2 separate regions of the Homo sapiens genome follow, and region 1 is linked to region 2. The links come from fine-mapping of genetic effects on gene expression. A gene starts in region 2. The other region holds a variant in brackets. All regions are shown on one strand. Distances are from middle to middle.

Region 1 (5,356 bases), 100 kb after region 2:
CCGATCGTCAGTTATCTTATTCCAGCACGTTTTGTGCTGATGAAGAGTTTTTCCTGCTGTATTTTCCTAACTTGTTATTACTGGCCTAAAGAAATCTCTCGGGTCTTTTAACTGCGTTTGAAGCCAGCCTCTCAATGAACTTTCTCTGAGCTCCAGTAAATGGTGAGTTGAGTTGTTTCAGGTGCCAAGAGGAGCAGTGCTGACTTGGGTAAATGCTGTCCCATGTCCTGGCGCTGGACCGAGAGCTGCGCCTGCACCGTCCGCATTCACCCTCACACGCCCTCCCCTCAGCAGCCTCGCCTCACACTGGGAGGGTGCCCCGCTGTGCTACAAGGGTCATTTATTTGCATGTTAACGATGTAAGCTCATTCCTTGTTATAAATACTGGTTTTTATCAAATGAGCTGTCGAGATTTTCTAGATCAATATACCGGTTTTCTCCTTTAATCTGCTAGTGAAGTCAACGATATTAACAGAGTTCTGGGAAAGTGCATTATCCCTGAACTCCAGGAATTCATTTCTTCTCTTGCTCCATGTTTCCTGTGGTGACACCTTCGTGTCTGGTGCTGGGTGAGGCAGCCGCCCCAGGGGCCCACAGGTGTCTCGGTGTTGGAGGGCTGAGAGGGAGGGAAGGGGGAGCCACCATGGATCAGGTGAGAAGCCTCTCCACAGAGGCCTGGCGAGGTCCACCCTGCTGCAGCAGAGCAGGTGCCTGCGTGAGGAGGGCCTCCAGAGGGCAGCGGCAGGGCTGTGGTGGGACCTGCTTGTGCTCGGAGAGCACTGGCTGCTGTTGTCCAGTGCTTGGAGGTGAGGGGCAACGAGGGAGGCTACCACTGTCTTTGAGGTGAAAGGGTGGTGGCCAGGCCAGGGTGTGGTGGAGACAGTGGGCACAGGACAGGTTTGAGAGATATTTGGGAACGATGGGCCCCCTAATGGATGGTCATGTGGGTGGGACCCAGGACCTTCCCCGCAAATTGGTCTCTAGCAGACACCTGGTATTGAGATACTCTTGTACTGGGCTGCAGGGGAGAGAGGAGAAGGATGTGGCTCGGAGAGATGACCTCTGTGCCTCCTGGGCCCTCACTGGGACTCCCAGCAGCCCTGGTGGGCATCCAGTCCCGCAGTGGTGGCCCTCCACCCCAGAAATCCTGCAGGCTGGCTGGCCCGACTGAGCTCGCACTGAGCCCCACCCTGCGCAGGGGTGGCCTCCAGAGCATGGAAGGCTCTCCTCCCACCTGTCCCGCAGCATCCGCAGAGGCCGGGCTGTTGTTGGGCCAAGGCTGCGAGGCAGAAGCCTGGGGCAGGTGAGGTGGCTCCTGTGGACCTGCCGCAGGCTCAGGCGGGGAGCAGAGCAGGGGTCTGTGCCTCCGGAGGGCTGAGTGTGTGCTGGATGTATCTGGCAGGATTTCACTGGGCCTGGTCTCCCTGGGGCTATTGTCGGGGGCCCCAGGTGGAGGTATCTGCCAGCAGGGTGTCTGCCTGTCGCAGGTCGCCTCTGCATGGGGTCACTGGGTCACAGCCCACTGGCCTGCTCCACCACCACCAGAGAGCCCCAGCAGGGCAGGCTGCCAGGGGGTTAGGGGCTGGGTGGGTGGGTGGGCGTGAAGATGGGGCAGGGAGCAAAGCTGAGGGCAGGCAGGGTGGTGGTGGGCAGGGCCTCAGGGGAGGGCCCATCCCATTCGCAGGTGTGGTGTGGGGGACAGGGTTGGAGCCCCTTCTTTGGCCTGGGCCTGTGGCCAGGGCAGCCAGGGCCTGGGGACTGGTGAAGAGGAGGTTGCTCTGTGCCCAGACAGAGGGGTTGGGAAGGAGGGAGGGCTTATCTGTGGTGCCTGGGCTCAACCTTGGTTCTGGGGTCCCCAGTGGTGTGGGGAATTTGCAGAGAGCTTCATGAGGATTTGGCTTTGCCCAGGGTGTGAGACCTGGCCAGGAGACCTGATGGCACCCCAGCTGGGCATGGGGGCCATGCTGGGTTCGACCAGCAAAGCAGAAGCTAGAGGTAGGGGTTTTCCGGAGGCACTGGTGCTGGTGAGCCCGACTGCAGCCTGGGGGTCCCTGCAGTTCACTGGCCTGGACACACAGACCCGCGTGCTTCTTCGGCAAGACTCCTTTGTGATCCATGAATTGGGGCCAGAGCGATGAGATCTCCTGGGCAGTGGCCGGGGCTTTGCTTCCCACGCTCCAGAGCTGCGTCACCAGGGCGCCCAGCTTCCTCTACCCCAGCTCCCTTTCCTCCCCGCTGCCTAAATCTCTTGCTCGTGGGCCCTTCGCTGCCAGCCTGGGACCTGCCTGTCCTGTTGAAATCCC[C/T]GGCTGTAGCCCCGTCTCCAGGCGCCCCCCTCCCGGCTGCAGCCACCTCCACCTTCTTGGGGGTTGCCTGGACTTGTTTCCTCTACGGCAAGGCCTTGGTGCCTGTGGCCTCTCTTCCTGTGCTGGCTGCCTGCGGCCCGTCCCCACATAGCTGTCCCTTCCTTTGGGAAGCCTGTGCCGGGAAGGAACCACAGAGCTGACTGACGTGCAGCTGGCTGAGCCCTTCCCAGGGTCATCGTGGCCGCCCCCACTTCCAAGGCTGCACCATGTGGCCACCGTTCCAGGCAGGCTGGGCTGGGCAGTCTCAGGCTCCTTCATGGGAACTTGCTGCTGCTGCAGCTTGTCGATAAGCCTCTGGCTGCGGGAGACCACAGGTGACCATGGTGGCCACTCACAGGCGGGCAGCTTGACTTCAGGGGGGAAGTTAAAGGCGGAGTCGGTGCATGAAAAGCTGTGTGTTCCTTCTCTGAACAGCTGTGTGCCCTCACCTTCTCATTAGCTTGAAACCATGATCCTATCTTTTTGTTTGTTTTCGAGTCAGTCTTGCTCTCTCCCAGACAGGAATGCAGTGGCGCAATCACGGCTCACTGCAGCCTTGGGTGGGCTGGTTCAAGCCGTCCTTCTGCCTCAGCATCCCAAAGAGCTGGGACCACAGGCCCAGGCCACCGTGTCAGGATAGTTTTTTAGTTTTTTGCAGAGACGGTGTCTTGCTTTGTTGCCCAGACTGGTCCTGAATTCCCAGGATCAAGTGATCCTCCTGTCTCAGCCTCGGAAAGTGCTCAGCCACCACGCCTGGCCAATCTTATAACATTCCATTTTATGCGTTTTAATCCTTTAAAAAAATCTCCCTGGCCGGGCGTGGTGGCTTATGCCTGTAATCCTAGCACTTTGGGAGCCCAAGACGGGTGGATCACCTGAGGTCAGGAGTTCGAGATCAGCCTGACCAACATGGTGAAACCCCATCTCAACTGAAAATACAAAAATTAGCCCGGTGCGGTGGCACACATCCGTAGTCCCAGCTGCAGAGGCTGAGATAGGAGAATTGCTTGAACCCAGGAGGCAGAGGTTGCAGTGAGCCAAGATCACACCATTGCACTCCAGCCTGGGTGACAGAGCGAGATTCTGCCTCAGTTAAAAAAAAAAAAAAAAAAAAGTCTCCCTAGGCTGAGGAAAATTTTTATGCATTAAATTAAAAAAATTGATCTGGACCAGGCAGTGTGGCTCACACTTGTAATTCCAGCACTGGGAGGTGGGAGGATTGCTTGAGCCCAGGAGTTTGAGACCAGCCTGGGCAACACAGAGACAGACTGTCTGTATAAAAAATTAAAAGATGAACTGGGAGTGGTGGTGCACGCCTGTAGTCCCAACTACTCAGAAAGCTGAGGTGGGGGCATCGCTTGAGCCCAGGAGGTCGAGGCTGCTGTGAGCCGTGATTGAGCCACTGCACTCTAGCCTGGGTGACAGAGTGAGACCTTGTCTCAAAAAAACAAAACAAAAAAAAAACAGCATTTTTTAAAAATGTATGAACTTTTTAGATCTCTTTATAAATATCTGTCACTTTCACTTGAGGTTTACTAAGGAAGTATGATTCACTTGCAGGCCAAATTTAGGTTTATCCAGATACAGCTCAGTAAAACCTAGCTGGGAATTCAGCAGTGGCGCGATCTCGGCTCACTGCAACCTCAGCCTCCTGGATTCCAGTGATTCTCGTGCCTCAGCCTCCTGAGTAGCTGGGGCTACAGGCGTGTGACACCATGCCTGGCTGATTTTTTTGTGTATTTTTAGTGGAGATGGGGTTTTGCCATGTTGGCCAGGCTGGTCTCAAACTCCTGACCTCAAGTGGTCCACCTGCCTCGGCCTCCCAAAGTGCTGGGATTCCAGGTATGAGTCCCCGTGCCCGGCCTGAAATTCTGTTTTAATTCCTCACTTCACCATTTTCCTTAAGTTTGGCAACTGGTGTTTCTTGAGACTCCCCACACCCCAACTGGCTGAGTCCCAGGGAGGGCAGGGACGGGCAGGGGGACGAGAGACTCCAGAACTGCTGGGTCTACGGTGGAGGTGGGGCTGGCTTCTGGCCCTTTGCCTGTTAGCTCGTACCCGTGGGAGCTGCCGGCCTCGCTCCTGGATCATGGTCACGTCCTCCATGCCAGCCCCAGCCTGGCGCACAGTGGGTCTGTTTACAGGAGGGGAAGGACTTGCGGGTGAAGGCAGAGGAAAGGCCTTGCTGGAGACTGAGGCAGGCTAGTCACTTCTATCTTGTGGAGGCTGTCCTGCCCCACACTACCAGCACGGACTGGGGTGGAGCACAGTCCCGGGGCCAGTGTTGAAGGGGTGCCCTGGTGTGGGCAGGGCCCAGCATTCCTCCGTGCCCCCTGCAGCGCAGTGAGTGAGGCAGAGCTGACCTCACCCTGCCAGTGCTACCTGCTCCCCCAGGCGTGCGCAGTGACACACAGCTACTCCTGCGGGCTGAGGAGGCTGACCCCATTAGCCATAGGGGTGGTTGGATCAGAGCAGCTGCGAAGGGTCCCTGGTGGTCGTGGGGGGTGGGTGAGGGATGGAGCTGCAGTGTCATCTGGCGGCAGTGGAGATGCTGGCGAGTGGGCAGACTGGGGGGCGCAGCCAGGAGGACCTGTGGGGCTGCCTGTGGGGCATCCTGAGGCTGGGTGGGAGAGGCAGAGACCAGGGTGCAGGTCGGACCTGTCATCTTTGGAGCCAGTGTACAAGGTGCCTGACCCAGGGCTGCGCAGAGGCGAGACGCCCGGGGAAGGGGCACACTGCTGGGGCCGGGGAGGTGGGAGGTGGCCGACCAGGGTCTGGGGGCTTGATCTCAGCAGCCTGCCAGCCCAGGCCCTGGAGTTGGGCCGGCTGAGGAAGTTACTGGGAGATCTGGATGGGTGGGTATCTCCTGCAGGGCGCGGGTAACGGCTTCAAGGCCCTCGCACGTGTGTCCCACAGGCTGTTCTAAGCATGGCTCGTTGCAGTGGACTCGGGGGGCTGTGGGGTGGGCCGGGGGCTGCGGAGCTGGGGAGTGGGCCGTCCGAGCGCTCCTGGAT
Region 2 (5,356 bases):
GTCCTCCCAGCCCTGCGCTCTCTGGTGGTGGGGACAGCCATATCCCTGGGGGAACGTGATGGAAGCCTGGCCGGGGTGGAGGTGTGAGAAGTAGCAGCTCTGTGTTCTGAAGGTGAAAGTAACAGGACTTCTGGCAGATTGCGTGTGGGGATGAGAATGGGGCTGGGGCAGCTCGCTGGGTGGGGGAGCCGCTGCTGGAGTGGGCCACTGGTAGGTGGCCTGGGGCTTGGTTTTGGGACGTGTCTGGCCATGCAGTCAGAGGCGCCACTAGAGAGTAGGGGCCGGGCCATCCCGCAGGCCTGGAGCTGCCTCTGGTTGCTGTGGAGGGGCTGCGTGGCATTGCCAAGGGGAAGCTGGGACCCAGCAACATGGAGGGACAGAGATAAAGGCCCAGTGGGGTAGGAGGCAGGTGGGGCAGCCAAGGGAGGCCTGAGCCTGGGTGGGTGGGGGTTGGCTTTTGTTGGTCTGCCCCCGAGACGCGCAGTGGAGTGGGGTCAGGAGAGCCCAGGAGGCAGGCGGAGGTGGGGGAGGTGGACACCTGGAGGTGCACGGCAGTGGGATGCCGCTAGGGAGCGTGGGGACAGGCCCTTAGAGGTTTCGTCTGTGAGTGGATAGCACAGGCCCCTGGAGTGAACAGAGAGGCGAGGGGGTGGCTGGGGATGGTGGAGGGCAGTGAGAGAGTTTGGGGTCTACAGCACAGGCCTGGCGGGCAGCCTGAGTGCGTACAGGGCAGCAGATGGTGGGGGTGTGGGTGGGTGGGGTGTGGGAATCTCTCCTGATAGATCCTGGGCTGACAGGCAGGACCAAGAGGCTGTGCTGGGGATGGGTGGAAACCAGAAGGCAGGGCAGTCCCGCAGGAGTGTGGGCTGGCCAGGCAGAGGCTGTATGGCTGGTGGGGAAGGTCCTCGGCTGAAGTGGGGTTGCTGACCAGAGCTGCTTCCCACGGACTGCTCAGAGCAGGCAGGTGGGGCTCCTGCATGTGGGCGTGGCATGATCATCTGGGGCCTCAGCTGGGCCTCAGGATGGGAAGGCACTAGGAGGTCCATGGGCATGGGGTCTGGGGGTGGCATCACAGCAGGCACGTGCCACTTACAGGGCAGTCATCTGGACATGAGCAGCAGCCCATCCATGGGGAGGGGTTCCTAAGTGCCTGATCCTGGGCCCCATCCCTGTCTATGGGGAGCTGGAGTCCACTGCCCTTGGCACAAATGTTACAGGAAAGGGGTCCCAATCCAGACCCCAAGAGAGGGTTCTTGGATTTCTTGAAAGAAAGAATTCAGGGCGAGTGCCTAAAGTGAAAGCACGTTTATTAAGAAAGTAGAGGAATAAAGAATGGTTACCCCATAGACAGAGCACCCCGAGGGCTGCTGGTTGCCCATTTTTTTTTTTTTTTTTTTGAGACGGAGTCTCACTCTGTCGCCAGGCTGGAGTGCAGTGGTGCGATCTCATCTCACTGCAAGCTCCGCCTCCTGGGTTCAAGCGATTCTCCTGCCTCAGCCTCCCAAGTAGCTGGGACTACAAGTGCGTGCCACCACGCCCAGCTAATTTTTGTATTTTTAGTAGAGACAGATTTTACCATGTTGGCCAGGATGGTCTTGATCTCTTGACCTCATGATCCACACGCCTCGGTCTCCCAAAGTGCTGGGATTACAGGCGTGAGCCACCGTGCCAGGCCGGTTGCCCATTTTTATGGTTATTTCTGATGATATGCTAAACGAGGGGTGGATTATTAATGCCTCCCCTTTCTAGACCATATAGGGTAACTTCGTGCCGTTGCTGTGGCCCTGGTAAACCGCCATGGCGCTGCGGGGAGTGTAGGACGATGGTTTTGGTAGGTTTGGCCAACTTCTTTACTGCAACCTGTTTTATCAGATACAGGGTTTTTTTTTTTCTTTTTTTTGAGACGGAGTCTCGCTCTGTCGCCTGGGCTGGAGTGCAGTGACACGATCTCTGCTCACTGCAGCCTCCGCCTCCCGGGTTCCAGCGATTCTCCTGCCTCAGCCTCCCGGTAGCTGAGATTACAGGCGCGTGCCACATGCCTGACTAATTTTTGTATTTTTAGTAGCGAGGGGGTTTCAACCGTGTTGGCCGGGCTGGGAGATACAGGTTTTTATGACCTGTGTGTTGTGCTGACCTCCTATCTCATCCTGTGACTTAGAATGCATTAATCGTCCGGGAGTGCAGCCCAGTAGGTTTCGGCCTCTTTTTAGCCAGCTCCTATTCAAGATGGAGTTGCTCTGGTTCACACGCCTCTGGCACAAGGAGGGCTGGAGATGAGGGAGACCCGGTGAAGAAGGCCAGAGATACCGCACAGGAGAGGCCCACGGGGCCGGGAGCTGGGGCTGGTAGAGAAGGCCGCAGGGCCTCCCCTCTCCTCTCTGTCCTTCAACGCCCCCTCCACGGGGAAGGACGTCCGCCAGTGGGAAGCCCTGTTGTGGCCTGGGCTGCCAGCTCCCCTTGCCCAGGACACCTGGAGGTGGGATCCTGGGGCGCCCACGCTAGGCGAGCCCAGGCCCGGCGCCGGAGACCCGAGGGCCGCAGAGCCAAGGTGCCCTTGATCCTGCGCCCGTGGCCCGGGGAAGCGCAGGGCGAGGACGGAGGCGCGGGGGGCGGGCCCGGCCTGATGTAACCGCGAGTGCCGGGACCAGTGGCGCGGGGGGCGGGCCCTGTAGGCTCCTCCCCGAGGCGAGGCTGGTGCGGGCAGGGCCGCCGGGAGCGCAGGCAGAGCCGACCGCGAGCGACCGAGCCGGAGCCGAGCGCCAGGTGGGGCCTGCGCCGGGCGGCCTCCCCTCCGCGGCCCTTCCCCGCTGCCTCCCGGGCTTCCCCTCCGCGGCCCCTTCCCCGCTGCCTCCCGGGCCGCTCCTCACGCGTCCCCGCCTCGGGTCGCCCCGTCGGTGCTCAGGCTCCGTCCTGTCCCGGGGCCCGCCAGGCTTGGGTCGAAGGTCGAGCAAAGCGGGAAGTGGGGTCCCCCGGCCAGCTCGCCCCAAACCCCCTCCCCGCACTCCCGTGCCTCTTTCGTGCTGAGGGACCCCGCCCGAGGGCTCCAGGGTCCAGCGGCGTCCCCACCTCCCGTGCCTGCTCCGCTGCCTGGGTTTCGGCCCAGTCCAGGGCCCGGAGAAGCGCGATGCTGGGCATGGGGGCATCAGGCCGCTGACCGCCGGCCAGGCTCTCGCTCGGGCCCAGGCTGCCCTCGGAGCTGGGCCTGCGGCTCTGGCTCTTCCCAGAGTCGTGCCCGTGGGTCTCTCCCTCAGGAACCCCCCGCATGCGCAGGGCTGGGGAGCCTCTAGTCCCACTCGCAGGTGAGCCCGGGCTGACCCCGCCTCCGTCCAGTTTTTCCAGGGCTACCAGCTGAAGAGCTCCTGTGGGACTCCAGCCCCACCACCATGGGCAGCCCCGAGGGCCGCTTCCACTTTGCCATCGACCGTGGGGGTACCTTCACAGACGTCTTTGCCCAGTGCCCAGGGGGGCACGTGCGGGTCTTAAAACTGCTCTCAGAGGACCCTGCCAACTATGCGGACGCGCCAACCGAAGGCATCCGCCGCATCCTGGAGCAGGTGGGCCAGGGCGGAGCGGGTGGACAGGGACCCCACGGCCAGAAGCCCCACACTGACCACGTGGTCCCCAGGAGGCCGGCATGCTCCTGCCCCGGGACCAGCCGCTGGACTCCAGTCATATCGCCAGCATCCGCATGGGCACCACAGTGGCCACCAACGCACTGCTGGAGCGGAAGGGGGAGCGGGTGGCGCTGCTGGTGACACGTGGCTTCCGAGACCTGCTGCACATTGGCACCCAAGCCCGTGGGGACCTCTTTGACCTGGTGAGCTCCATGTTGGCTGGGGACCAGGCTGTGTGGTGTACACCCCCCAGGGATGCCTTGACCCTGTGGGGAGAGCAGTTGTTGGATTAGTGATGGCTCATGGGCACCAGCCGACAAAGAGGAAGCTCCCGAATTCCCAGTGGGACCCCAAGTTCTCCTAGCCCTCGGAGTGGGCACAGGATGCCCTGTTCCTGCCTGCCGCCATGCCCACCCTGGATGCTGGTGTGGGGCCACCCAAGCTACCCTGTTCAGGCAGAGGAGGGGTGGAACCCCGCACCTACTGCTGCGTTTCCGGAAGAAGCTGCCTTCGTGGGGGTGGAGCAGTTGGCTGCACTCAGCTGCCTAGGGGGTGGAGAGCTGCCCCCTTGGTGAGCCTTGCTGGGGCTGCCAGGTATGACTCTCCTGGGCCTGCCGACCGGCCTGTTGGGACACAGCCACTCACCTGTACCACCCACTCACACAGGACCCCGGCCTGGACCCTCAGGCCTGGGCCTCTTCTGAGTCTCTGCCCGCCCCCAGGCCGTGCCCATGCCTGAGGTGCTGTATGAAGAGGTGCTGGAGGTGGACGAACGCGTGGTGCTGCACCGTGGAGAGGCGGGCACCGGGACGCCTGTGAAAGGTGTGTGTGCCGCCGCTGCTGTGGGATTTGGGGCCGGAGGGTCCTGCTGGCCTTTAACGGGGCCTCCTGGGCTTTTCTGGAAGGCCGCACGGGGGACCTGCTGGAAGTGCAGCAGCCTGTGGACCTGGGGGCCCTGCGTGGGAAGCTGGAGGGGCTGCTATCTCGAGGCATCCGCAGCCTGGCTGTGGTGCTCATGCACTCGTACACGTGAGTGAGGTGGGGCTGTGGGCTGCGGGAGCAGGTGCCGGGCCTGGTGGGAGACGAGGTGCCACTGGGTTTTTGTCATAGGTGGGCCCAGCATGAGCAGCAGGTGGGTGTGCTGGCCCGGGAGCTGGGCTTCACGCACGTGTCACTGTCCTCGGAGGCCATGCCCATGGTGCGCATCGTCCCTCGGGGGCACACGGCCTGTGCCGACGCCTACCTCACGCCCGCCATCCAGCGCTACGTGCAGGGCTTCTGCCGTGGCTTCCAGGGCCAACTCAAGGTGAGGCTGTGAGGCACCCCCACTGCCCACTCCTGGGCCTGGGCCTGGGCCTTGGCCTGCCCCTCATGGCCCGCCTGCTGCCCGCTCGCAGGATGTGCAGGTGTTGTTCATGCGCTCCGATGGCGGCCTGGCGCCCATGGACACCTTCAGCGGCTCCAGTGCTGTGCTCTCGGGCCCGGCCGGCGGCGTGGTGGGCTACTCAGCCACCACCTACCAGCAGGAGGGTGGCCAGCCTGTCATCGGCTTTGACATGGGAGGTATGAGGGCCGAGGGCTGGGGTCTCGGGGAGGCTCAGCTGCTGGGCCCCTGGGTCTTCAAGTGACCCACCAGCACCCCACCCCTGCCAGGCACGTCCACGGATGTGAGCCGCTATGCTGGGGAATTCGAGCACGTCTTCGAGGCCAGCACAGCTGGCGTCACCCTCCAGGCCCCGCAG

What was found. PIP is the estimated chance that this variant, and not a neighbour inherited with it, causes the effect. A credible set is the group of variants that fine-mapping cannot tell apart.
Region 1: its variant is the best candidate, but not a certain one, in a credible set for the expression of OPLAH in blood mononuclear cells (TOPMed, PIP 0.84).

Annotation. Positions count from the first base shown.
Region 1 is chr8:143,954,045-143,959,400 of GRCh38, reverse strand. It overlaps a transcript of PLEC not described here. Among named protein-coding and RNA genes, the nearest start is that of MIR661, 11 kb to the right of the region's middle. RefSeq lists an enhancer at 1,165-2,068. The variant C/T (reference allele first, on the strand shown) is at 2,304.
Region 2 is chr8:144,058,060-144,063,415 of GRCh38, reverse strand. It overlaps OPLAH (5-oxoprolinase, ATP-hydrolysing), which reads left to right and starts at 2,724. Exons shown (of 27, transcript NM_017570.5): 1 at 2,724-2,763; 2 at 3,331-3,554; 3 at 3,626-3,817; 4 at 4,337-4,436; 5 at 4,520-4,643; 6 at 4,725-4,920; 7 at 5,012-5,177; 8 at 5,268-5,356. The coding sequence starts at 3,384. RefSeq lists an enhancer at 1,996-2,516 and a silencer at 2,308-2,917.